Regions from separate parts of the Homo sapiens genome. Here region 1 is linked to region 2. Evidence: fine-mapped expression QTL. A gene starts in region 2. The other region holds a variant in brackets. All regions are shown on one strand. Distances are from middle to middle. Region 1 has its middle 53 kb from the start of GPR63. Region 2 holds the start of GPR63 (G protein-coupled receptor 63).

Evidence for each region. PIP is the estimated chance that this variant, and not a neighbour inherited with it, causes the effect. A credible set is the group of variants that fine-mapping cannot tell apart.
Region 1: its variant is the best candidate, but not a certain one, in a credible set for the expression of GPR63 in blood mononuclear cells (TOPMed, PIP 0.78).

What each region holds. Positions count from the first base shown.
Region 1 is chr6:96,777,690-96,790,647 of GRCh38, forward strand. No RefSeq gene overlaps it. Among named protein-coding and RNA genes, the nearest start is that of GPR63, 53 kb to the right of the region's middle. The variant T/C (reference allele first, on the strand shown) is at 6,213.
Region 2 is chr6:96,833,534-96,845,137 of GRCh38, forward strand. It overlaps GPR63 (G protein-coupled receptor 63), which reads right to left and starts at 3,944. Exons shown (of 2, transcript NM_030784.4): 1 at 3,735-3,944. RefSeq lists a silencer at 3,454-3,503.

The sequences.
Region 1 (12,958 bases), 55 kb before region 2:
ACAGTGAAACCCCGTCTCTACTACAAATACAAAAAATTAGCTGGGCGCGGTGGCGGGCGCCTGTAGTCCCAGCTACTCGGGAGGCTGAGGCAGGAGAATGGCATGAACCTGGGAGGCGGAGCTTGCAGTGAGTCGAGATCGCGCCACTGCACTCCAGCCTGGGCAACAGACCGAGACTCCGTCTCAAACAAACAAAAAAAAAGGGACATGGATGAAGCTGGAAACCATCATTCTCAGCAAACTATCGCAAGGACAAACCATCATTCTCAGCAAACTATCGCAAGGACAAAAAACCAAACACCGCATGTTCTCACTCATAGGTGGGAATTGAACAATGAGAACACATGGACACAGGAAGGGGAACATCACACACCAGGGCCTGTTGTGGGGTGGGGGGAGAGGGGAGGGATAGCATTAGGAGATATGCCTAATGTTAAATGACGAGTTAATGGGTGCAGCACATCAACATGGCACATGTATACATATGTAACAAACCTGCACGGTGTGCACATGTACCCTAAAACTTAAAGTATAATAAAAAAATTTTAAAAAAAGAAATTTGCAATTAAAAAAAAAAAAAAACCTCTGTGAGAAACATTTAACCAGAGCAGAAATGCAAAGAAATCAGCTATGGTATATAGTTATTAAGGAGAATGAGTTGTATCCAGGTAGACCAACCTATAAAAACAGCCATGAGCTATTAATTTGAAGACAAAACAAAGATATTGTGCAACAATATATACACCATGACCCGATTTTTGTAAAATGAATAAACAAGTAAACAAAACTAAACACAATAGAAGTTTGTAAATCTCTATGAGCCCAGAGGAAAATACACAGGTACATCCAGCCAAAGGTTAGCATTAGCTACCTCAGGAAAGCATAATTAGAAAGAAGAAAGTAGAGATTAAAGTTCTCTGTCATATTTCTGTATTGCTTTGACTTTTGAAAATAAATTTTATTATCTTATAATTAAGCAAAACAAAAACGTAAGGGATAAAATGTAAACTAAGGAAGACACATACATCATACATGAGAAATAATTTTTGATTCAATTCAGTAAGTATTTGTTCAGTGTATGGACTGATTAGATATATATTAGATATGGTGCACTTTGCCAAAGTAATAGAAAACCTGATTCAAACTGGCTTAAACAAGGACATTTATTGGCACACATAACCAGAAGTCAGCCGTGATGTGGGTTTCAGGAGTGACACCTGTGCATTGATTTCATCCTCAGTCCAAAGGAAAAAGAGGCAGAGTTCTGAGATATAGTCTCCATGTCCAGAATATGAGTGACCTCCTTTTTGGAAGGTAGCCCAGGAGATGAAGGAAATGCTTTCAGGAAATCTTTCCTTGTGCTTCATCAGCTCAAATTGTATCATGCACCTAATCATGATAAACTCATTGGCAAAAAAAAAAAGAAAATTTAGATCAATCAACTACTGTTAGAGTGGGGTGTGAGGATGGCCTCTTCTGAGGACCACAGGGATGAATATCTGAACAAATTTCCATTAACAAAGAGAAAGAAGAAATTGTGGCTATGGTCAAACAACAGTGAACAATGGTGGCATGTCTTTACCCTAACAGTGTTTACACTGTTGCAGAAGGCAAGCAATAAAAAGAAATTCTAATTGTGAAGAGTGTTATGAAAAGGCAAGTATATACAGTGCTATGCTTTCAGAACAGATAGCGAGGATTTACCATTGACAAGTGGGGTTGCGGAAGCTTACAGAAGACCATCCTGAGGAATGTTTAAGACCTGAGGAAGAGAGAGAAACTCTACTAAATCCAAATTTATGATTTAAATTAAATAAATAAAATAAAGTTTACTTCATTTGTACCAGAATTTCACTGAATTCTTCTCACTCTGCACTGACCCATAAAACTTCACTAGAAACTTGTGATTATTTGTATCTCTGTTAAGGGAAGGGTCAAGGCACATCAGAATTCTTTTCAGCTCATGGCAATTGTCTGACATGCTAGTTGCTACCTGGTTAAGTCAAACTGCTTAAAGATGAATTTTTTACTAATAACGTATGAAGACAGGAAGGCCAGTGGGTGTGATATGTTTAAAGAACTGAAAGCAATGCCGATGGCCAGAGCCTAGAGAAACCAATGCTAAGGTTACATCTGCTGTATGTTAGGAAAACTCCCATAAATTATCAAGGAAAAGACAAATGCCCCGACAGAAAAATGGGAAAAGTAGTTCACAAGAAATAGAAAAAGGAAATAAACATGTAATATTGCTTGGTCTACTAACAATAAAAGAAAAGCATTTTGAAATACGTTCCATTTTTCATTTACCAAAATAAAAATTAAAAACTAATTCTGGAGCTCAGTCTTCAATTAGGACATAGGCATTTGCTACAATGAATATAAATTCATACAACTTTTCTAAACAGCAATTTGACAATAAGTCCAAAATTTCAAAAATGACTGACTGCCTTCTGAACCTCACAATTCAACCCCTTGGAATTTATCTCAAACAAACAAACGAAACAACAAAACCCACAAATGTGAGTAAATATGTTCAGGGATGTTCATCACAGCATTTTATGTAATATTGTAAAGCAATACTGGATGGAATTGTTACTGAGTGAAAAGCAAATTAAAATAGTATTAGAATCTGACTTCTCAGCCAAGCACAGTGGCTTACACCTGTAATCTCAGCACTTTGGGAGGCTGAGGCAGGAGAATCACTTGAGGCCAGGAGTTTGAGACCAGTATGGACAACATAGCAAGAACCTGTTTCTACAAAAAAATAAAATATATATAGCTGGGCATGGGGGTGTGCGGCTGTAGTCATAGCTACTTACTTGGGAAGCTGAGGTGGGAAGATGGCTTAAGCCCAGAGTTTGAGGCTACAGTGAGCTATGATTGCACCATTTCACTCCAGCCTGGGCAACAGAGTGAGACCCTGTCTCTTTAATAATAATAAGAAGAAAGAATTTGATTTCTGTTTTATATAGCAATGATACACATTCACAAAAAAAGAGAAATATTTATAGGTTATTCATAGGTTAGTTGAGGATATTTATAGGTTAGTTGTCAGTGGATTTTTTTTTAATATTTTGTGCTTTGCAACATCTTTCAGATTTTCTATATAATATAAATGTTTTCATTTTATAATAAGAACGGAGACGTTTTTAAAAAGAAAAGCCAAATCAGCCCTTTTTGGAGGGACTTATCTCAGTAATCAAGGCAAAACTATAATTTTCCTTTATTTTTCACATCACTATATCAATTCCCAGCTTCTCAATACAGAGAGGGCTTAGACACAGTGAACTCAAATTATCATGGTGAAAAAAGGAAATAAGACCTGTCATATAATAATAGGGTAAGATATCCACATCTTGTCATTTTTCCTTTAAAGCAAATATTTATTTTATTATCACATTATTGGAAAATGAGAAAGAATTGGGAGGAAAATTTATTAGTTCCATTGCAGCAACTGCTGACGAGATGAACAAATAAGCTATCATATGGGATACAAGTCCATCCTCATTATTTATCATTCTAACTACCATTAACAGAATGAGATCTGTCTGCCAGGTGCCTTACAAACTTCATTTTATTTCCAAATCTCGGAAGAACAATGAAGGATATGTTGTCTTTTCTTTCTTTCACAGATGAGAAAACAAAGGCTCAGAGTAAACAACTGGCCAAGTCAAAACTTGACCCCACATCTGCTGCAATTCAAAGCTTATGTTCCTTCCTCCACACTAATCTACTTCCCCATAGCACACTTTATAACAGTAACTCACATTATTAACATTGTCCAATAGTTGTATTTCCATATTTCAGCAATTGATTCAATATTTATTGAGGGACTACATATCCCAGTGACTATATAAGGAGTAGGATATCAGAAAATGTTGCTTGCCTTCATGGTGCACCCAGAGGCAAGGTTGTCTGCTGAAGCTGAACGAGAGTTAGGAAGAACTGATGTGGGTTAAAAATAATCAGTTTTGGAGCCTATAAAAAGAGCTGACCAGGGCAGTGTAAAAAGTTTGTCAAGTAGTGCTGAGGTCCAAATAAAGTTGGAGAACATGAACTTGAAGTGGCACCAATTTTTAGGATTGTGCAATATTATTGTTTCCAACAGCATTCATTGGCTTTGTTTGGAAACCAAATGTAATGGAAATGTGTTGTTTTTTGATGACCCAATATTTATAGACCATCATTTTAGTCATTGTGTTACAGTAGGTAGTCAGGCATGAGCAGGAAAGGAGAGGGCTCCCCATCCACCAGGAATGTGAGGCAACCATTAGGTGATGGTCTGGCAGTTGTCACACTACCTCTCTAAAAATGATCATTGGTTGCAGCCAGTGCCAGGGAGATGGCTTGGTAGCTGTCACATTAAAATGATAGTTGGTCACAGGTGCTAGGGAGAAGCAATTTCTCAACAGAATAAAAACACTTGAAAATGGTAATCAGCAACTTCCAATAAAATCTCAGGAACTGGGTGAGTGAGCTTGAGCGTGAGTTTTAAGAGACAAAATGGCTAAGTATGACCTTCCAGGGGCATTCCACTAGAAAAGGGAAGAAAGCCTCAGGTGACTGTATGCACAACGCTAGTAAACACACTGCACGTGCTCACCTCCCAAGTGCAAGGAAGGCATTGCGCATGCAGGCAGCCCACCCTAAGGGAAGAATCATGGGAAAAGAGACGCAAGATGACAGGAGGGGGCCAGCATATAAAGTCCTAGGATCAAGGTTAAACGGGGCACATGACCTTCAAACTGCCCACTTGGGTCTCTTCCAAGTGTACTTTCCTTTCTTTCCTAATATAAAGCTTTTAAATAAACTTCCACTCCTGCTCTGAAACTTGCCTTCATCTCTTTTTCTGCTTTATGCCCCTTAGTTCAATTCTTTCTTCTGAGAAGGCAAGAATTGAGGTTGCTGCAGACCTGTACACACTCGCTGCTAGTAACCCAGATAACCGTATTGCACCCCAACCTCTCTCTAAGAAGTCACCCACTCCTCCTCTCGCTTTTAGCCCACACACTTCTGGGATCCAGGGTGGAGCATGTTGTCTGGCCCAAACAGATTGGTTAATTTTCTGTTACTTACAACGGAAAGAGCCCTTCCAGCATGTTAAAAACAAAAAGGACTGGAAGTGGGGTAGTATAAGAGATGAATTAAGAAGATGGAATTGGCAAAGTCGTGGTGAAAATAACAAGGACTTTCTGTCTTGGGCAGGGAAGCTGGCAATCCTTGCTAAGGAGTAGTGAAATATTTACTTGTATCTTGGGACTGAGACCATGTGCTTCCTGAAGCTTCCTCAATACAAGACTTGATAGGAAAACAAATGGGAGCTCAGAGTGTTATTTGTTATGGCCTTCAGTAAGGTCCTACCAAGAAAATATTGGATTTAGATTGAAATTGGCCCATCTGAAAAGAGAAAAGAAGGAAAATTACAAATATGCTAGTAGAGACCATTTCTGTTGAGGGTCCACAATCTGAGATGGCTAAAAATCCAATGAAATGAAACCTGGGGTAGAAAATGGCACACTATGCTGTCATTTAACAAACATGCCAGAAAGCTGGGAAGAAGTCATCCCCGGGAGGAAATTGGGATGTGTTCCCCCTCAACTATCTGCAGTTATGCACCCCAGGACTGACAAAATTCAACTCACCTAATTGCAAAGAAGAAGCTAGGATGGAGCCTAGGGGCAAGAGGAGAATTACTGGTGACTCCTACCGCAGCTGTCGCTTGATTTTATTTCTAGGTAGAAGCCATTCAGTTGAGGGGCAAGTATGTGAGCCAATGCCTGAGACAAAGGCAAGGCCAGCTGCTTAAGAGATTGAAATTCCCATGCCCAGTTTCACAAGTCAAGAACTATGTCTTGACATAATGTTTGACCTTTAGTTACTAGCCCTTGGAACTCAGGGAATAGAAAGGGAGGCTGTGGGTAGGAGCCCTCATTAATTGATAAAGAAGTTGCTTTGCTTGAGCTCTAAATCAACTCCCAGAACACTGAAATTTTACTAACCCAAAGCAGACTCCTTAGGGATAACTCTTGGAAGGCTCACTCTCTCCAATACCCATCTGAGGTGTAGCCATGGAAAGCAATGGACAAGAGAGAACCTTCCAGAAAGCAGAATAGGGATTATCCAACTATTTATTAAACACGCACAAACAAATATTTGGAATATAGTACTTTTGCAGTAAAAGAACCTGAGATATAGACAACTTAGGACATTTA[T/C]TTTCAATGACAGTTTGTCCCATTGATGCAAATGGTCTTTTCTAACTAATCCTAGTTCCTGAATCCCAGGGAGCCTCAGAAGGAGAACTGAAGATTAAGGTCTGGGTGGTATACAGGAATCTGGAGGAAATCTTGGGCCAGGTCAAATATCTTCCCAGGAAACTTGCAGCCACAATTCCAGAGGCATAATCTGAATTATAGTCAAGAAAATACAACACATTTAGAGCCCAGCATCAGATCCTGGGAGTAAAATGAAATCATAAATGGAAGAATTAAGAAATGAGCTCAGAAGATGGGAAAATCTCATTTACGAGTATGTGAGGGCCCATGAGACACATAGGATTGTTTAAGGTGCACTTTTATATGGATGCCTATTTATCACAGTTGACCTCCAGTACTAGTTCCATGTGATCCTCCACCCAAACATTTCTGAGCCATAAGCCCTATCCTAGTGTGCACCCATCAGTGGTAATCAGTGGTGTTTACTCAGACTTAAACAAAGTAGCTGGACCTATGCACCAGGACCCGGAGGACAGGATTTTCTCCAACTACTATTCTATGGGACTGTGTCCAGCCTGCCTGGATTCTACAAGCAGTGTTCATTGCCTTATTGGAACAGTTACAAGAGGGAAGAAGACAAGAAGAAAATAATAAGCTAGTAAAAAGAAGAAGAAAACTAGCAGTTGCACTTACTAGAGCAGACTACAGCATTTACAAATCATCAGATAAAGGGCACCTTGAATAGACAGAGGGGAATATTTACAGAAGCAGCTGGTTTCCCTAGGATGTCATTGTAAATGTACCCACCGATTCTGCTATCATATGGCAGCAGCATTCTTCCTCCACTCACATAGTTTATGTCCAGCCCTCTGCCAATGAGAAGATATGGCTGGCTGGTCAGTTGACCTCCTATACACAGACAGCTGACTTTGTGGCCTAGAGTAATAAATCATAGACGTGTCTGGAAAGCCTCCCTGGTGTCAAACACTCTGGTTCTCATTGACCCTGAATAAAGCCTGTGCCAGCAAACAGAACTTCAAGATACAGCAACACATTAACTGATGCCCTGATAAAGGCGGCAGATGGGTGTGAAGGCACTTAGTGCCAGGCTGGGATGGCCTAACATGGCCTGAAATACTGTGAGAAATCCTCATGCTGATCTGGGGAAAGTTGGTTTGGTCATGAGTGTGGGATTGTTCATCTGTTTGTCTCTCTTCTCAGCCAGGATATCAAGACTGTCAGTCATTCTGCCTCATCCATAAATTTCACAGCCTGGGATACAGAGCTCATCAATGCCATAAGGAAGTTGAGGACTTAGACTGTGTCAGAGGAAATCTTTTTGGCATGGGTCTGAAGATGGAAGCTGGAGCTGTACACGGGCTAACTCTCATGGGCTACTATCAAACAGTGAGGGAAACCCACAGTCTCAGGTGAAGGTTTTCTCTCTTTGGGATGCTGTGGCCACAAAGTGGTCACTGTTGGCTCTACTGTGCAGAAATGACTTTGTTTTCACCAAAACTCATTTCCTTTTCATCTGGGGCACACAAGCTAGACCATATTTCTGCCTCCACTGCAGGAAGGTGCAACCACATAACCAACTTCTATCCACAGAAATATTTGTGAAAGTGATGGAGGCCATATTCAAGTTTGGCCATAAAAATCTTCCAGGTGTCCAGGCCTGGTATCTCTTTTATCACTGGCTTTATATTGGAATACAGCTGTATATTGGAATACTAGCTGTATATTGGAATACATTAGGATCTGCATGCTGAAGATACTAGAGCTTCCCATAGAAGGATTCCTGGGTGATTGCTTGGAGCCAACTGGGGACATTTGAATTGGATTGTTACATGAAAATGAAATCAACTATTCTTATGTTAAGCTATTGATTTGAGGGGTTTATTGACACAAAAGCTATCACTACTTTAATGAATACACAGATTGATTTTCATGTCACATTTGTGGGGTCAGGGTAATACACCCAGAATAATGTTTGCACCAATGATTACCCAGGCAGCCTAAGGAAGCATGGCTAGAGAGAGAATTTTAACTCCTTTAAGAAGGAAGCACAACTAACTGCTAGAAAAAAAGCCCCAAAAGTCAGTCAATGGAGGAAGTCATTCACAAAAGATTAAGTAGTAAGACTTTAGCCAGGATGCCAGTGGGCGAGTCAAGTTGCACAGCATGAAGACAATCAGAGCACATGGTATATAGAACAAGGGCAGAGGAGGTGTGAGGGCAACAAAGGTATATTTTCTTCAAATGACAATAGAGAGAGATCTGAAGGCATAAAAGAACTATGTAAAACCAGATAACTTCAGCCCCTACCTTTAAGCCAGCTCTGCACCCCATTAACTTCCTGAGGCCTTTACACACTGGCATCATTCTTGTAAAGTCCATTTCTTAAGGTTTATAAATTCTTAGGTCATTTCCCAAATTCTCTCATCTACCCTTGATGTGCACTTGTGTTGTAATAGATTTTATTATTATTTCTGTGTGGTAAGGCCAACACATCAGGAGATGAGTGCCATTGAAAAGACAGTTTATACTACTAACAGTTCGCAAGAAAGAGTACATGTTACGCCATAGGAGGCTATACTGGGATCTGTCACAGGGCAGAAAGAGAAGGGGAACTGTGGGCTGAAGCTTCTATTGTGCATTGCTCAGGGGTGAGGCAGGGTATGCAGACTTGGGATTGGTTAGTGTGACTAATCCAGCAAGCTCTGGAGCCTAAGGGCTGTTCCTAGTGTCTGACTGGGGGAATTAGGGTAGGTGGGGTATATGGCTGACTTAGGGAATAAAAGCTTGATAGGGAAGGTGTTTCTGGATATGGACTTAATCAGCTAAAGAAGGGCAACTGGCCAGCCTCTAACCAGGGCCCCCAAACTAGGTCAAGACAGTATTTGAAAAGCTATATTATAACCTGTCCCACAGTGACAGTATTTTCATGGTTCACTTCCTAGCCCTCACCATATCCCATGTTCCATATTTTAATTTTTGTCATAAGCATGATTGCTGAGTATACCCTTGTGGGTAATGGTTTCCTTTCCAGAAGAGGAAGGAACTGCTGTTTTTACTCTAGTGTTACTCCTAACCCTTCTAACGTCCATAGTACTATGTCGGCCACTTTGGGAATTATATTGAAAGCACCCAGATAAGCACCCAGGCTACAGAAAGGGTCAAATTTCCATGAGGCTCTGCTTCTGAGAATCAGGACTTCATGACCAGAGCCACGGGCCTCCAGATCTCCTGAGATCCCATGGTCAAGCTAGCATTCCTGAGAAAGGAGGTATTTGGCATTCAGTTAATAAAGACCTGAGTAGGAACTTCACCAGCCTGAGTCCCTCCTCACTACCTAAATCTTTTCTGCCTTTCTGATGGTCATCATGTCTGAAAATTTTCCCAGGAATAACCTAGCACAAAGAAACTACCATTGTTTGTATTATTTAGATCTCAAAAGTCTTCTGTTGCACTGGCCTCCAGAAGCTGCATGCCTGCCTGGCCTGCCTAGATTTCACCCTACACTCAGACCTTCTCTGAAGATATAAGGGCCAATAATGCTTAACAGGGATCTTGAATTCATTTCTTGTGTCTCTTGCTTGCAAATGAGAAACACATTACTTTAGGTCACAAAGTGGATATGCATGTTTTACCTATGTCAGAAATTGTGCGGTGGCACTGCTGCAAATTACCAGCGCTGAGTAGTAATGCTGAACCTGGTATATACTGAGATGAAGAAGTGATGAATAATGTAGACAAATCACCAAGCTTAGAGCCAGCCGACCATGGAGGAGTTGAGGACAAGCTGAGCAGGCCAGAGGCAACAGGATGAGTCAGGAGGCCCAAGCTAGGTTGATTGGGACAATCAGATTCTAAAGGAAAATCCTTCATGAATGAGGAAAGAATAAAGTGAAGGAAACAAAAAACACATGAGTTTCAGTGTCCATACAGACGCAGGTTTAAATTCTTGTTCTGAAACCAGCCCAACTGTCCCATATAACTGATGTTTATGGTTTCTTTTGAAAAAACCTAGAAATTGACCCTCGCAGTCTTAAAACTTGAGAAACTTGCATTGTCTTATCTGAGTTTCTTTCTCAGGAAACCAACCATCAGGCCTCCCAGACAGTGTCAAGAAACTGAAAGTTTCCAATCAGTCACTGCATCTGGACAATGAGACGTCAGACCCAATACCTGTCATGATTGCCTAACCAACCACTTGCTGCCTGTTAACCAATTCCTCTTCCTTACCCCCTTCTCCAATTCCTGTTTTCCCATGTGGAGTTCCATTTCTTCCCCGCTATATAAACCCCTAATTTTAGTCACTTGCGGAGACAGATTTGAGATTGATCTCCCATTCTTGGCTGCAACACTAGAAGCCTTCTTCCCTGGTGATACTCGTCTCAGTGATGGCTTTTTCCGTAGTGAGCAGCAGGGAACCCCTGGTGTTTTGGTAACAGTACCTCCACTTTATGAGTCCCGTAGCCTCTTAAAATCCAATTAACCACTTGAAGCTTTAAAGATTTATAAATAATATCTACCTCCCAGAGTCATTATAAGGACTGGCGATTACATAAAGTATTTGCATCACCTAGCAGGCATCAAATAAGTGACTTCCATTAATGTAATTATTTGGTTGTGGACTCTCTATGGGCTTTAAACAGCAATAAAAGTCTTAACCAGGAACTGACAACCGAAATCATTATTTATAACACTTACCTTGCTTCAACCAACATTGAACCTTTGTTTAGTATTTACATATTTTAGAACTTACTCATTAAGCAAAGTAAACACCTTTTATATGTAAAAGTCTGAGCTAGTTGCCAAAAACACAGCATTACCCACCCCCACCCCATGCACATACCATAATGTTTCCTGCCTTTTTTTGGTTTTTTTTGGAGATGGAGTCTTGCTCTGTCGCCCATGCTGGAGTGCAGCGGTGTAGTCTTGGCTCACTGCAACCTCTATCTCCCGGGTTTAAGCAATTCTCCTGTTTCAGCCTCCCAAGTAGCTGGGACTACAGGCACACGCTGCCACGCCCAGCTAATTTTTTGTATTTTAGTAGAGATGGAGTTTTGCCACGTTGCCCAGGCTGGTCTGGAACTCCTGAGCTCAGGCAATCTGCCCTCCTCAGCCTCCCAAAGTGCTAGGACTATAGGCATGAGCCACCGCACCCGGCCAATGTTCCCTGTTTTTACAGACTATCCATCTTTGTTTTAAATGGTCAGTGTTTCAAAGATTTGTTACTAAATTTTAAGTTTTCCTCACTTCTATACAATAGTAGACTGATTTGGCTGCCTTTTTGTTCTTCTAAATTTTCTTTTTTTATTAAGCCAACTGTTTGTTTTGGCACCACATTAATGTATGTACCTTTTAGTCTATTTATACATGTCACATCTTGGATTGACTTTTTATTCCCAGTTTCTTCCTGGCAAAGACAATGAGCACAGTGAGCATACTTAATAAATGTTACATAATAATAACTATTAAATGTTCCTTAAAAAATCTCAAGCAGATTTTTCATCTTTAGCTTCTACTTTGGGATAATTATATCCTTCCTCAAAGCTATTTATAGCTCCCATCAGGAAGAACAACTGAAAAAAAATGTCACAGTCCTGCCAAAACTGTGGTGAAAGTGATTTAAACTCTGAAGATCTGTTGCAAGTGTTCAAAATGGCGTTCGACATATGTATATCTAATTCCATCAACAGAAAACTTTTCCCAACCAAAATCTCCATGACGGAGGTGGTCATGGAATATGACTTGTCCATATCCCCATCATCAATCATTCCGATTACCCAAAACAGTCAAAGAAACGCACCTTACATGCAGTCATTATTAGTCCATCTGCATGTGCACTCTTCAGCTGCATCATAAGTCATGTTCTCCCTCTACCCTGTGAAGAGCCTGAGCCCCAGCATATTTAGTCGAGACCATAAGTTGCAGTCACAGGGCCACCTCATAAATAAGTGAAATGGAGGACCTCCTGCATGACGTGAATTGGAAATCATAGGGCCAAAAAAATATATACATATGTTCAGTATTCAGGGCTGCCAGATTTAGCAAGTACAAATTAGCAATCTTATTCGCTCTACACATTAATCTCCAAACTTGCCTGGATGGTATAAGAAAACCCCAAGATTACTTTCTCTCTTAAGTCCAGGAAGCAGGTTAGAATAGTAGGTGAGTCATCAGAGACTGAAGACATGGGCGTTGATCTCAGTTCTTGCTACCTAGAACTTATTTGGCTTGGAAAAGTCCATCCTAGTTTTTACCAGCAAGATTCTATTATCAAAAGGTCCACTTCCAGACTTTGAGAGGGTACTGCTCTCTGTGAGCCACCATGGTAGATGCTGGGGAAACCAGGAACAAGCCTAGTGCCCTGCCCTCAGGGAGCTTAGCATCTAGTAGGAGAGAAAGTGTAATTAAAGGAGAAAGGTGGGGTTAGAAATAAAAGATCTAGGTCTATATGAGAAGTCTTGGGTGGGGGGGTGTGGAAGAGGTGGCTGGCATCACATCTCTGTTAGACTACATTTCTGTATTTCCCTTCAGTATGCAACTTGTTTTACTGTATATTTGTTTTCATGAGAAGGCTTTTGCCCTCAGGAGAAATTAAATAGAACCCATTGCTTGGCAATAGCAGCCTTCACACAGATTCACATACAGTGATGTCTTGCATTCTAGGTTAATCATAGCTTTTGAGATTACCTTTGGGGAAATTGTGTAAGAAAAATCCTTTTTTCTCTCCT
Region 2 (11,604 bases):
CATGTCCCTTCTGCACCAGCCTCCCCAAGGAAGATCCTTAGAAGTTTCCACAGAAAAGAATTTGCCTAAAATATTTTTCAAATGCTTTAATAACATAGACTGAGCTAAGTCAATTGAGAGAAAGAAGTTAACCAAGAAGCTTTGCTCAAAAACCCTAAAAGGTATGTAAAGCTTATAACTATAATAACACATAAAGGTTTAAATTGAAAATGATGTTAAGAATTTGAAAATGATCTAAGAATCAATTAATATATATGCCAGGTGATTGGTACAGTATCTGGCTGGGGGTTTTTCTAAATTGTATCTGGGAAGATGTAATTCTTTAGCATATCACTCAAAGGAAATGCTGATAATAATAACCCTATTATTAATTTCAATAGGTGACCACTAGATTGCCCCCATACCTGCAAATATACCATCTATTCCCCAAGACCCGAGAGCTGTGTTAAAATCCAACTTTTCTAACTCTTCATTATGTTTATAATGAACATGAATGAGCTTTCCTGTGTATTAAGCTAGAGTTTCACGCTTGAGTTTTCTGAATCTTCTGTCATACAAACAGAAGTGGATACAAATCTTGTCCATATTTACTGGTGCAGAGGCTAGAATGCATTTTATCCTATGTGTCAAACTTAAAGCCTGAAACAGCTTGCTGTCAGCTTCAGAAACCATTTTTACAAGCATGGCATACCGCCTCAAGCCAACCAAATCCTAAAGCATGTTGGGCTGCCCACACTTCAAATCATTTGGAATGTTCTCATGTTTTGTGGTTGCAAAAGTACCAATTTTGTGGATCATCTAGTTCAAATTGAGGGCACATCTAACCTTAAACAGAAAATTCCCCGGAAATTGAAACTATAACTGACCAGGATCACATCAGCTCTTAAGATCTATGATCTCAGGCTGGTAGTCAAACATCTCAAATGTTGTGTTTTGAAAGTTGAAGAAATGCAACATAAACTCTGTGAAACTCATTCATGTGTCTTCAAGGAAACACTAAGAACTCATCCTAAATATACATATGTCATAGTTGCAAAAAAAAAAAGGAAAAAGTGCCACCTGCAACAAAGTAAAGGTGATTTGCAGCAAATATAAACACATTTCTGGTAAACAGCTAGCAAATTAAAGAAAAAAAAACCGCCTAACAGATTACTTCATTTCATTTCTAATTTTCATACATAAGCTGAAATATAGCAGCTTCAGCTGTGAAATGTGGTAACAAACATAACAAAGGTGAATGAAATAGTTTTGCTTGTAGTAACTGGAGCACTGTATTTATACATATTGTTTTTCCAAGCATTAATGGGTCCCTCTCTCAAATCAAGTGCTTAAGACATCATTTCACAAATTGGAGTACCAGAACTTCCCCAAGGTTTGCCTCTCATGCCTTTGAGGTCTACTCTCTAAATCCCAGATCTATGAAGAATGTCCTAAAGGTTATTTTTGAAGTATTAAAAGAAGAAAACACTATATTGACAAACTAAATTTTACCTAGAATTTGCCTATTGAAGCTTAAGAAATGCCTGGTTCAATTATCCATTGGCAGGGTAATTCAATCCATTTGAATAGATAAATGTGGTTAGGATATGGTTCCCTGATCCAAGCCTTGTTAAGAGTTCGAGAACATACTGAAAACCAGTGCTTTTTAACTTAACTGATATTGACTAAAATGCTGAAAAGATGACAAGCCCTAGCAATAACTATTTTTAGCTGATATTTTAGACCTACTGTTCCTGGTGCACATGTATTATTAGGTCCCTAAATGGTTTTCATGTTTTTTATATACTCAATAGCATATACAGATATGGTATATATAGTTATACTATATATAGTATGGATACATAAATATAGATATATGTGTGATATGGATATATACATATACAAATCCACCTCTGTGTGTATCATTTCCAAAATACTCATTCACAAAACAATCAACCCAAATTAAATAAACCATAAACAAAATCTCAAGGTGCTCAAGTAACTCTAGGAACTAAGTCACATCCACTTAGGAACACTAAATTCTTACTTTCTTGCTTGCAGTCCAGCAAACTTAAGGTAAAACAGTAACTACATAGGGGTTTTAGTTATGTTTATTTTTCCTAAGCAAATTTTTCTCCAAGAATGTTCAGCTTGCTGAAATTTTCAGAAAATGCTTGAGATGGTGGGTTCTTTTTTTGAGTTTCGGTACTGGTATACTTTACAGCAAAGTGACAAAACTGTACTTAGAGATAAAAATCTATATCCCAAACAAAATTTTACAGTATTACTGGTTATTCTGGGATGATTTTCTTCGAAAACTTCCCATTACAAACAATATGTTTCCTACACTATCCCGTCTGCCTTGGTAGTATACTTTTCACACACAAAATTGTACGTAACGCATATACCAGAAATACGTCAAGGCACTCTTTTATTTAAATAAGCTCCCACATTCTGTTTTTATTGTTCAAAATGATCTGAATGCTCATAATTGATGTAATCAATTATGTCACTAAAATTTTGGCTATGCAACATTTTACAAAATATAGGGACTTTTCATCAGCACCTTAGATTTGTAGTTGGCAATGTGAGTGAATAAGGCAAACAGGAATAGAGGTGTGGCAGAGACCTAGGGGTGTGAGAAAATGGGGCTTCCTTTACCCACGGGACACGTGGGAAAAAAAACTTATCCACGTCTGCAATAAATGTACTTTTATGTTAGGTTTCATTAAATGAAACACGTATTACATACCTCGTCAATGGATTAGAATGTCTGAAGCAGTATCAGCTTATGCAAGAAACATGAGGTTTTTATCCATGATTCTTAGAAACACTACTCCTAGAACTGGTTGAAGGCTTCTTAATCTAAGACATAATGAAAAACAAGCTCACCCAATAAACAAAGAGAAATCCTATTTTAAAAACATATGGTTTAAACTTCATCCTACCTCACTAAAAACCTGCATGCTACTATAGGGATGCCTGTATTCCCTAAGTGTCGAGACTCAGTCTCATCCAAGACTAAACGATCTCTTTGAAAATTTGGGCAAGCCCTGGGGGAAATTTTCATAAAGATATGTTGTTGGATTTTTTTTTTAAGCACTCTGAGCCTCCACAACATATTTTATTATTAAAAAGAAGAATGTTTCCGAAAAGGGGCAGAGGAGAAAAGACTGAAATCAGGGCGACGTTGAAAACCGGCCAAGGATGCAACACACAGCGCCGCAAGCTGAACCACATGGAAGAGGGAACCTCTCTTAACTGTTGGAGCGCGAAAGGACCTTTCGCTCTCGCAAACAAGGTAAATTTCAGCCCTCAAGCAGCGAGACCACCGTGTAAAAGTTCAAGTGGAGCTCATCTCCTTCCTCTCACTCCCAGCACTGAATTCTCAACCAGAACAGCCCAGCAGGAAAGGAGCCGGCATGGGGTGCCCCTCTGCAGCCGACCGTTTTCCTAGAAGGCCTAACCGCTCAGACGGGCAGGGGAGGGGGGCGGGCGGCCCGGGAGAAACCGAGTCCCCGCCGGGTCCCCACCGTGTGGCGCCGACCGAAATAACTCCAGTCCAGCTGCAAAAACCCTCCCGAAAACCCAAGCTTCTCCGGCACAACTTCGGTCTCTCCAGCCTCATTCCTCCCCGCACTCCGCCAAACTGCTCGCCCTGCCCAGCGCAGCGGATGCAAGCGCTCCCCGCCCCGAGCGGCTACCTGTCCCGCGGGCCGGGGATCGCGGGCCGGGGATCCCGAGCCTCACCTCACCTCAAGCGAAGGGCAGCGCGCGGGCGCCCGCGGAAGAGCCCAGGGAGCATGGCTCCATGTAGTCCCTCCCGGAACTTTCCTGACATAGCACTTCTCTCCTCCGCTGCAGAGAACAACGCTGCCAGGCGGAGGAGGAAGGAGGACAACGAAGAGGAGGTGGTGGCGGCGGCGGCGATACAGGCGGCGGTGGCGGGAGCTGGAGCTGAAAGTGAGGAGCATCGCGGACGAGCGCCGCCGCCTCGCGAGCCGCCGAGGGGTTCCCGCCCCCAGGGTAACCAACGCTCCCTCTTAAAGGCGCCGGCCCCGGTTTTAGACCGGGAGGTGAGTGAGAGAAGAGAAAGAGGGAGGAGGCAAGTAAAAAGGGAGGGGGCAAGTAAAGAGGGAGGAGGCAAGTAAAGAGGGAGGAGGCAAGTAGAGACGGAGAGATCCCTGGAGGCCACGCCCGAGCTGCCCCAGGGCGGATCGCCGGCCCCTTTCGACCGCTCCCTGCCCTGAACCCCTCTATGCTCAGGTCGCATCGTTCCTCCGCCTGGGCAAAGGCATCGAGGGTACCGCAAGTGCGCCCACCCGGCACTGGGGCAACCCTCGTCGTTGGCCTGCGCCCTGCACCCCGCGCCTCGCTCCCAGACGGTCGCCCCGCCCCTAATCCCTGGCAGTCCTTTTAGGGTCCTGGTTTCCCGCTCCCACGGGCCCCCAGAGTGCACCTCCAGTGGCTACTGCCCAGTGGATTTGCGTTCCCCGAGGCTACTCGCGTTTCTTCTTTGGTTATTCTTCCTCATTTCCAACACAATGATGAGGGTCTCACGCAGGCGTCCAGAAGACTGAAATAACTAAAAGCCAGCTGGGGCCCCTAGACCAATGCTTGAAGGTGTCCCTGATGTGTGGCATGGGAGAATTGCCAGGTATCCTCCTTTACCCGGTGCTCTGTTCTCTTCCAATGGCCAATCCCCAGCTGGCCTCCCACTGGATTTCTAAAACGATTCACTTTCATCAACACATGGGCTGTAAAGATGCCAAACAACTCAGGAAGACCCCCCAGAAAAAGTATCATCTTGAGACAGTGGAAAATGCTGCTTTCAGTGACAAGTGATATTTTCAGCTATTATCAACATATGTGATCATTACTGAGGCCACAGCCTCAGGTGGTGATGCCCAGGAGGCTCCCAGCATCAGCAGCTATCGTCACCCTAGGAAGAGACCACAGCAGCAGTGGGCATGAGCAGCAGAGGGTTGCTACTGTCCACGGACTTGTTTTTCTACCTCATAGTTCCAACCCTTGCTTCTTGGACCTATGGGACTTCAGTATAGTGTTGTGCAGTTTGTACTCTGCACTGTGTCCTCTGTCTGAGGAGGTGGGCAGGCAATTTGGAGTTAAGATCTAGCCTGGGTTCCAGAGCACCAGTCCTAGCACCAAGCTCGGAGAGAGTGGCATTTCCTCATTCACACAAAGGCACTTGCATATCACTACCCTGAGACTGAACCAGAACATCTCAGTTCTTTGCCTCCTGCCACCTACAGCTGTGAAAGAAGCACTTGTGTTGAACTTGTAGAAGAATAAGGCAAGAGGAGACTATACAAAAGGTTGAAGAAACTTCTGTAACCAGATGGAGACGAAATAAGCCCTGGGCTCAATAAAAGCAGGAGACATGGTCTTGCCTGGACCAAACTTTTAAGATGGGAAAGGAGATTATCAGCGAGCAAAAGTGAAGTCAGGATAGTTGGATGTGGCCAGCACACAACTCAAACTGAGTTAGCAAAACCTGCAGCAAAGGGCATTGGAATTTATTGGTTCATATGTTTATAAATCCCATAAGTAGAACTGGCGCGCGCACACACACACACACACACACACACACACACACGTTCTTAGAAATCCTTTTTACTCCAGATACTCAAAGAGCATCAGGACTCAATTTCTCTCCCTGTCTTCATTGTGCTTTCACTGCACTGGTTTTATTTCTCTAAACAGAGGGAAGACCTACATCTCCAGTCTTAACATCCAACCTCCTTAGCAATTAGTCGCATCAGAAAGAAAGCAAGCTGAAGAATGTCTCACCAGACCCACGTGGATCCTGCGTTCATCTCTGAACTAACCATTGTAACTATGGGATGGAATGCACACTGCCAGGCTGGGGTTATTTGCCTTTATCTACAAAAAGGTCAAGGGAAATAATTGTATGTACCCTTCATATATACCCAAACCACAGGGACCGAGTAGAAAGAAAGAGGTTTCCCAAAGGAAAATTAAAGTGTTGTTAATAAAGAAGGCAAAAGAATGTTGAGTAGATAAAGACTATAAATGCCCACTACAATCCCCATTCCCCAGTATACACACATCACCACCACTGTCACCAAGGGGACTGACCACCTCTCTGCTCCTTTACCAACAGTCTCAGGATCAGAAGAATGAGAATGCTGATGGGTCATGGAGGTGCTAGTAATTGAGCCAACCAGCCACATCCTTTGGCCTCAGAGCCACTGAGAAGATCCTGAGTGACATTTGTGACATTTCACAAACCACCTGCAAACAAACAATATATAAACCATGATTGTATTCAATTATTTTTCCCTAAATTATAAACCTGCCTCCATGTACCTCAAGCCCACATTCATTGTTAGGCCTTTTTAGTTATGCAATCAATTTAATTTGATAAGAGCTCATGGAAATTCCCTGATATATATATATATATTCAACTTGGGGGAAAAAAAAGTGGCCTACGAATAATCACATTTCAGTATCCAAGTGCCAAAGAGCCCAGCTTTGTTTTTAAACTTCAGTAACTTTATCTTTTCAGAGAGAAAGATGTTATCTTTCTCTCTGAAAAGGTGTTTATTTTGCCTACCAAAAAGTGACAAAAAATTTCAGGCTTTTTTTGTCTCACACAAGAACTTTTCTTTTACAGTAGTTGCTAAAAAAAAAAGTTTTGTATTTTTTTCTTCATTTGTGCATTTTATAGAAATCCTCATATATCATAGAAATTTAGACTAATAAACTGGAAGAGACTTTAGAATAACCTAAAACATCCCTTTCATTTCAGAGCTAAAGAAATGAAAGCTCAAAGGTTGACTTGTGTAGGGTACATAGCTGTTTTTTAGTATCTGTGATGTCCCTAACACACATGTGCTTTTGCTAGACATTTCGAAGGATATAGAAGCAAAAGCATAGAATGTAGTCACTGTCCTCAAAGAGACATAACTATCTAAGATATAAGACAATTACAGAACATCACAATATATCATATAATTTAGTGTAAAAAGTGTGGGATGATCTCCGTGTATTAAAAATAGGCATCAGAAAATGAGACACTATGGACTGGAATAGTCTTGGAAACACTTTCTAGCGAGGAAGCAATTAGATGGTCTTTTTTAAATGCAGAGGAAAAAGGAAAGATTTTCCAAGCAAGAAAGCAAACAAAATGAGAAGGCATTGATGGGAAAAAGATCTTGCCACTTGCAGGAACAGAAATGAAACCTGTACTGTCATGGTTTAGAAAAGTTTTTCAAACTCCAAGTCATGAAGTCATTTTACTAAGTTTTGACTAGTATTATTTTAATTAAAATATCAGCATGCATCATACTTAATAAGTATTATTTGTTAAACTTGTGTTTCATTATCATGCGTGTTCTGAGTTATGACATGAATTCAATGTCTTACTTTGGTTAATGTTCACAGTAAGCTCAAAAGCCTCTGGTTCTGAAGCTAAATAGACTAGGTGTGAAACTGTTTTGAGGCAAGACATTGAGCAAATAACATCTCTCCAAGCATCAATTTCTTTATGTGCAAGAGATTTTCTGCACAGTCCTGTGCACACAGTAAGACTTGTAAATGCCACCTCTTATTGACTAGATTGGATATTTTCAACCCTGACTGCACATTAGAATCACCTGAGAGGTTTTTTTTAAAATACCGTTGCCTGGGGCCCATCCTCAGAGACCCAGATTCAATTTCAGGGTTGACTCTGGACATCAGTGAGATTAAAAGCTGCCCAAGTGATTCCAATGTGCAATCATGGCTGAGAACCCTGAGTTGGAGCCATAGAACACATCTAGCACCTGAGGAGCCTGTCTCTTTCCTCAGTGAGTACATTGACTTTGATAAGTTACGTTTCTTCCCATAGATAGCATGCCAGGTAGTCAGCAGATTTCTAACTACTTTCTACTCTGCATTTGCCCCTGAAAAATCTTCAACTGTGGTGTAAACTGCTCATGGTTTACCTCAGTAACACAGCATGAATCCTGAGTCATAATATTTCATGTGTCTCTCCACATGTACATTTTATGGTCAGTTGTAAGCATAGAGTCGTTTCTGGAGGTGTTAAAAGGCAGTAAAAATACCACCAAAAACTCCCTAAGGAAAAGCAGAAAGGCTAGAAGTAAGTGGCATTAGAAATCCATAAGCTGAATAATTAGCAGATGACTCATTAAATTCCAGCTATTTTCATCCTAACTTTTAATAGTGTAGTTTCTAAACATAGTAATTAGTGATGTGCTTTTTGTAATTTTACATTCAGTAATCCCTCTTAAGTGTTCATAACTTACAAACTTTTTCCCCTATTTAATCAATCCCTTTGTGTATGAAAGAGTAAACATTTTCAAATACAACTTGTCCAAGAAATTCAGTATCTAGACCACTGTATTTTGACTGATTGTTTTGTCTATGTAAATCCAGACTTTTCTGAACTTTGGCTGGAGAAAGATAATAAAGGTAGCATAAATTTAAATTCCCCCAAAGAGACATAACAACGAAGATAAAGGGGGAAAAACACTATAAACTACAAGTCTGATAAGCAGATACCATGTACTTCATGATATGACAAAATCAGAAGTACCCAGAACCACTGAGAGGTTTTATGGCCTAAGCAACGGAATCTGAATCTAATCAAGCCTCTAGACCTAACAGGAAATACAGGGGACAGAGGATCAAGTTAGAAATCATCTGAAGAAAGCAATCAATCAAATCCAGAATGTCAAACATTCAATAAGCAAAGTGACCTGATTTCCATATGGAATCAATGACATGAAAAAACAGGGGTCAGACTACAAAAGAGTAAAAGAGATTTAAGGATCATAATTAACTGCAACGTGTGGACTGTATGTCCTGTTTGGTACAAACAACCTGTGAAGATAATCCTTGAAATAATCAGGAAAATCAGATTATGGATTAAGTAATTTGATACTATAGATGAATTATTGTTAATTTTGTTAGATGTGATAATGGCATGACAGTTATATATAAAACAAATATGTCATTGGGGTGCATATTGAAGAATTTCATAATCCTGCAAAAATAATGGAAGGAGGAATAGGTGAAAAAATGACTAATAATTTTTGAAGCTGGTGGATGGAGATTTATTACCTTGTACTAATTATTATTGAGTATATTTGGAAAACTCCCTAATGAAATTTTTAAAAATTTCTATTTGATGTTGAGCTAACCTTTTATTAAAATCTTTCTCTTGGTTTTGCTAATAGAACAGTGATAAACATATGTGGATCTAGGCCTGGTTGTATGTCAAGTATCCTGAGAAACAAGCTTTAAGTTTCAGAAATCTTTTATTATAATATTTTTGACCAATATTTACTGGTTACATTCAAGGCATCTTTCAACTCACTGTACACTGAGGACAAGGCTCTAATGCCAGTCTCTTTGCTAAGGGAACCCTCAGTGGCATAGGATTGGACCAAAAGAGTGACCAGTGAGGGATTCTGTAGGGAGAGCACACTCCGTCCTACACAGCGGCTTCTCTGCGCTGCAGTTGCTTACTCTCCAAGTATCTCTGGGCTTCCATCTTTCTAGGGTGGCTGGTGTCCAGTGACTAGCTCTGGCTGCCAGCTGCCTCTCTGCGCTGCAGTTGCTTACTCTCCAAGTATCTCTGGGCTCCCATCTTTCTCGGGTGGCTGGTGTCCAGTGACTAGCTCTGGCTGCCTCCATCTTGGGATGTCCATGGTGAAGTCTGTGGTTAAGTCCATAGGGACTAAATGGTTGATGCTTCTGTTCTTTTTGTAAGCCTTAGTAGAGACATGGTCTCTTGGCCAGAAACCTTTCCCTCATCCTACCACATCGCACTATTTTCTACCCCTCAAAGAAGACACACAAGTGTGTGCGTGCACACACACTCCAAGAAAACACTGCAGCGGTAAATAAGATTCAGTAGGCCAAGACCAATGAAGGAAGACGTAGAGCAGCCATTCAGCCTGCTTTTAGTCCATGCCTTAGCCTGTTGTTTTTCCAACACTGGTATCTGGACCATTATTGACACATGATTACTTTTAGGGTAGGGTAACTTTTTTTTTTTTTTTTTTTTTTGAGACGAAGTCTGGCTCTGTTGCCCAGGCTAGAGTGCAGTGGCGCTATCTCGGCTCACTGCAAGCTCCACCTCCCGGGTTCAACCACTCTCCTGCCTCAGCCTCCCGACTAGCTGGGACTACAGGCACCCCTGTATTCCCACGCCTGGCTAATTATTTGTATTTTTAGTAGAGACAGGGTTTCACCACGTTAGCCAGAATGGTCTCAATCTCCTGACCTTGTGATCCGCCCGCCTCGGCCTCCCAAAGTGCTGGGATTACAGGTGTGAGCCACTGCTGCCCGGCCAGGGTAGGGTAACTTTTAATATGTCTATTTAATGTATCAAGAATTAGAAAAATAACATATCAATCTCATTTCACGGATATTACTTCTTAGGATGACGCTAGATTTTTTTTTTAATGAGTTCGTTTTTGGCTGGGAGCATTGGCTCATGCCTATAATCCCAACATTTTAGGAGGCCAAGGCAGGAGATCACTTGAGACCAGGAGTTTGAGACCAGGCTGGGCAACATAGTGAGACCCTGTCTCTACTAAAAAGCAATTAATTCAAATAAGTCAATTTAATAAAAATGTTAAGTGAATAAAAGTGCAGATATTTTGAGGATATGCAAAATTCAAGAAAGTTTTTATATATGACTAAGGGTTTTGAAACTCTGCTTTTATCTACAGAAGCAAAAGGAGTCTTCATGGCTCACACACTGCCAGCCCAGTTCTGCAGGGGCTTAACTAGAAAGACAAGGTAGTTAAGTAAACGCTTCGGCATTTGGAAATCACGAATTATACTTCTAATTCCACCATGACATAGGGAACTTCCATTCCTTCTTGGGAAAAATTCTGGTAGTGGTTGTTCAGCTAATCATCCCTTCTCTCTCCCTCAACCCTTTCTCATATAAGTTAGAAATAGTTCTTTATTTTTCTCTTCCTCTAGTGGACATTGTTATTATCTCTGACTTACCAAAACAGGGATTCCCAAATTAATTTTTTATGTTTCATAATTTTATTCTCTTTTCTTTCTCTCTCCATGTGGCTAATACCTTTAGTCCTCTCTTATAGGCAGTCCTTTCTGCTGGTCTCTGCCTTGCTGTAACCATGCATGCCTTTCTTAAAGTTTCAGATGACTTCTCACTGTTCTGCAGGTACTATACAGATCCTGTAAAGAAGCCTTCCTGATTTGAGAAAAAGAATTACACATTAACTCCTTGTGGCTTCCCTTGGCTGGCTATGCTATAGTCTCAGAGCTTGAAGATCAGTTCTTTGAATCAACTCAGTCAGACAAAAATAAAGAAGAAGAAAGAATAATGATCAAAACCTCCAAAAAATATGGTGTTATATAAAAAGACTGAATTTTTGACTCATTGTTATTCCTGAAAGAGAGGGAGAATAAGCAAGCAACTTGGAAATACATACTAGAGGATATTGTCCACAAAAATTTATCCAACCTTGCTAGAGAGCCCAACATTCAAAATCACAAAATGCAGAGAAACCCTGAGAGTTACTATATAAGATGACCATCCCTAAGACATATAATCATCAGATTTCCCAAGGTCGTCATGAAAGAAAAAAT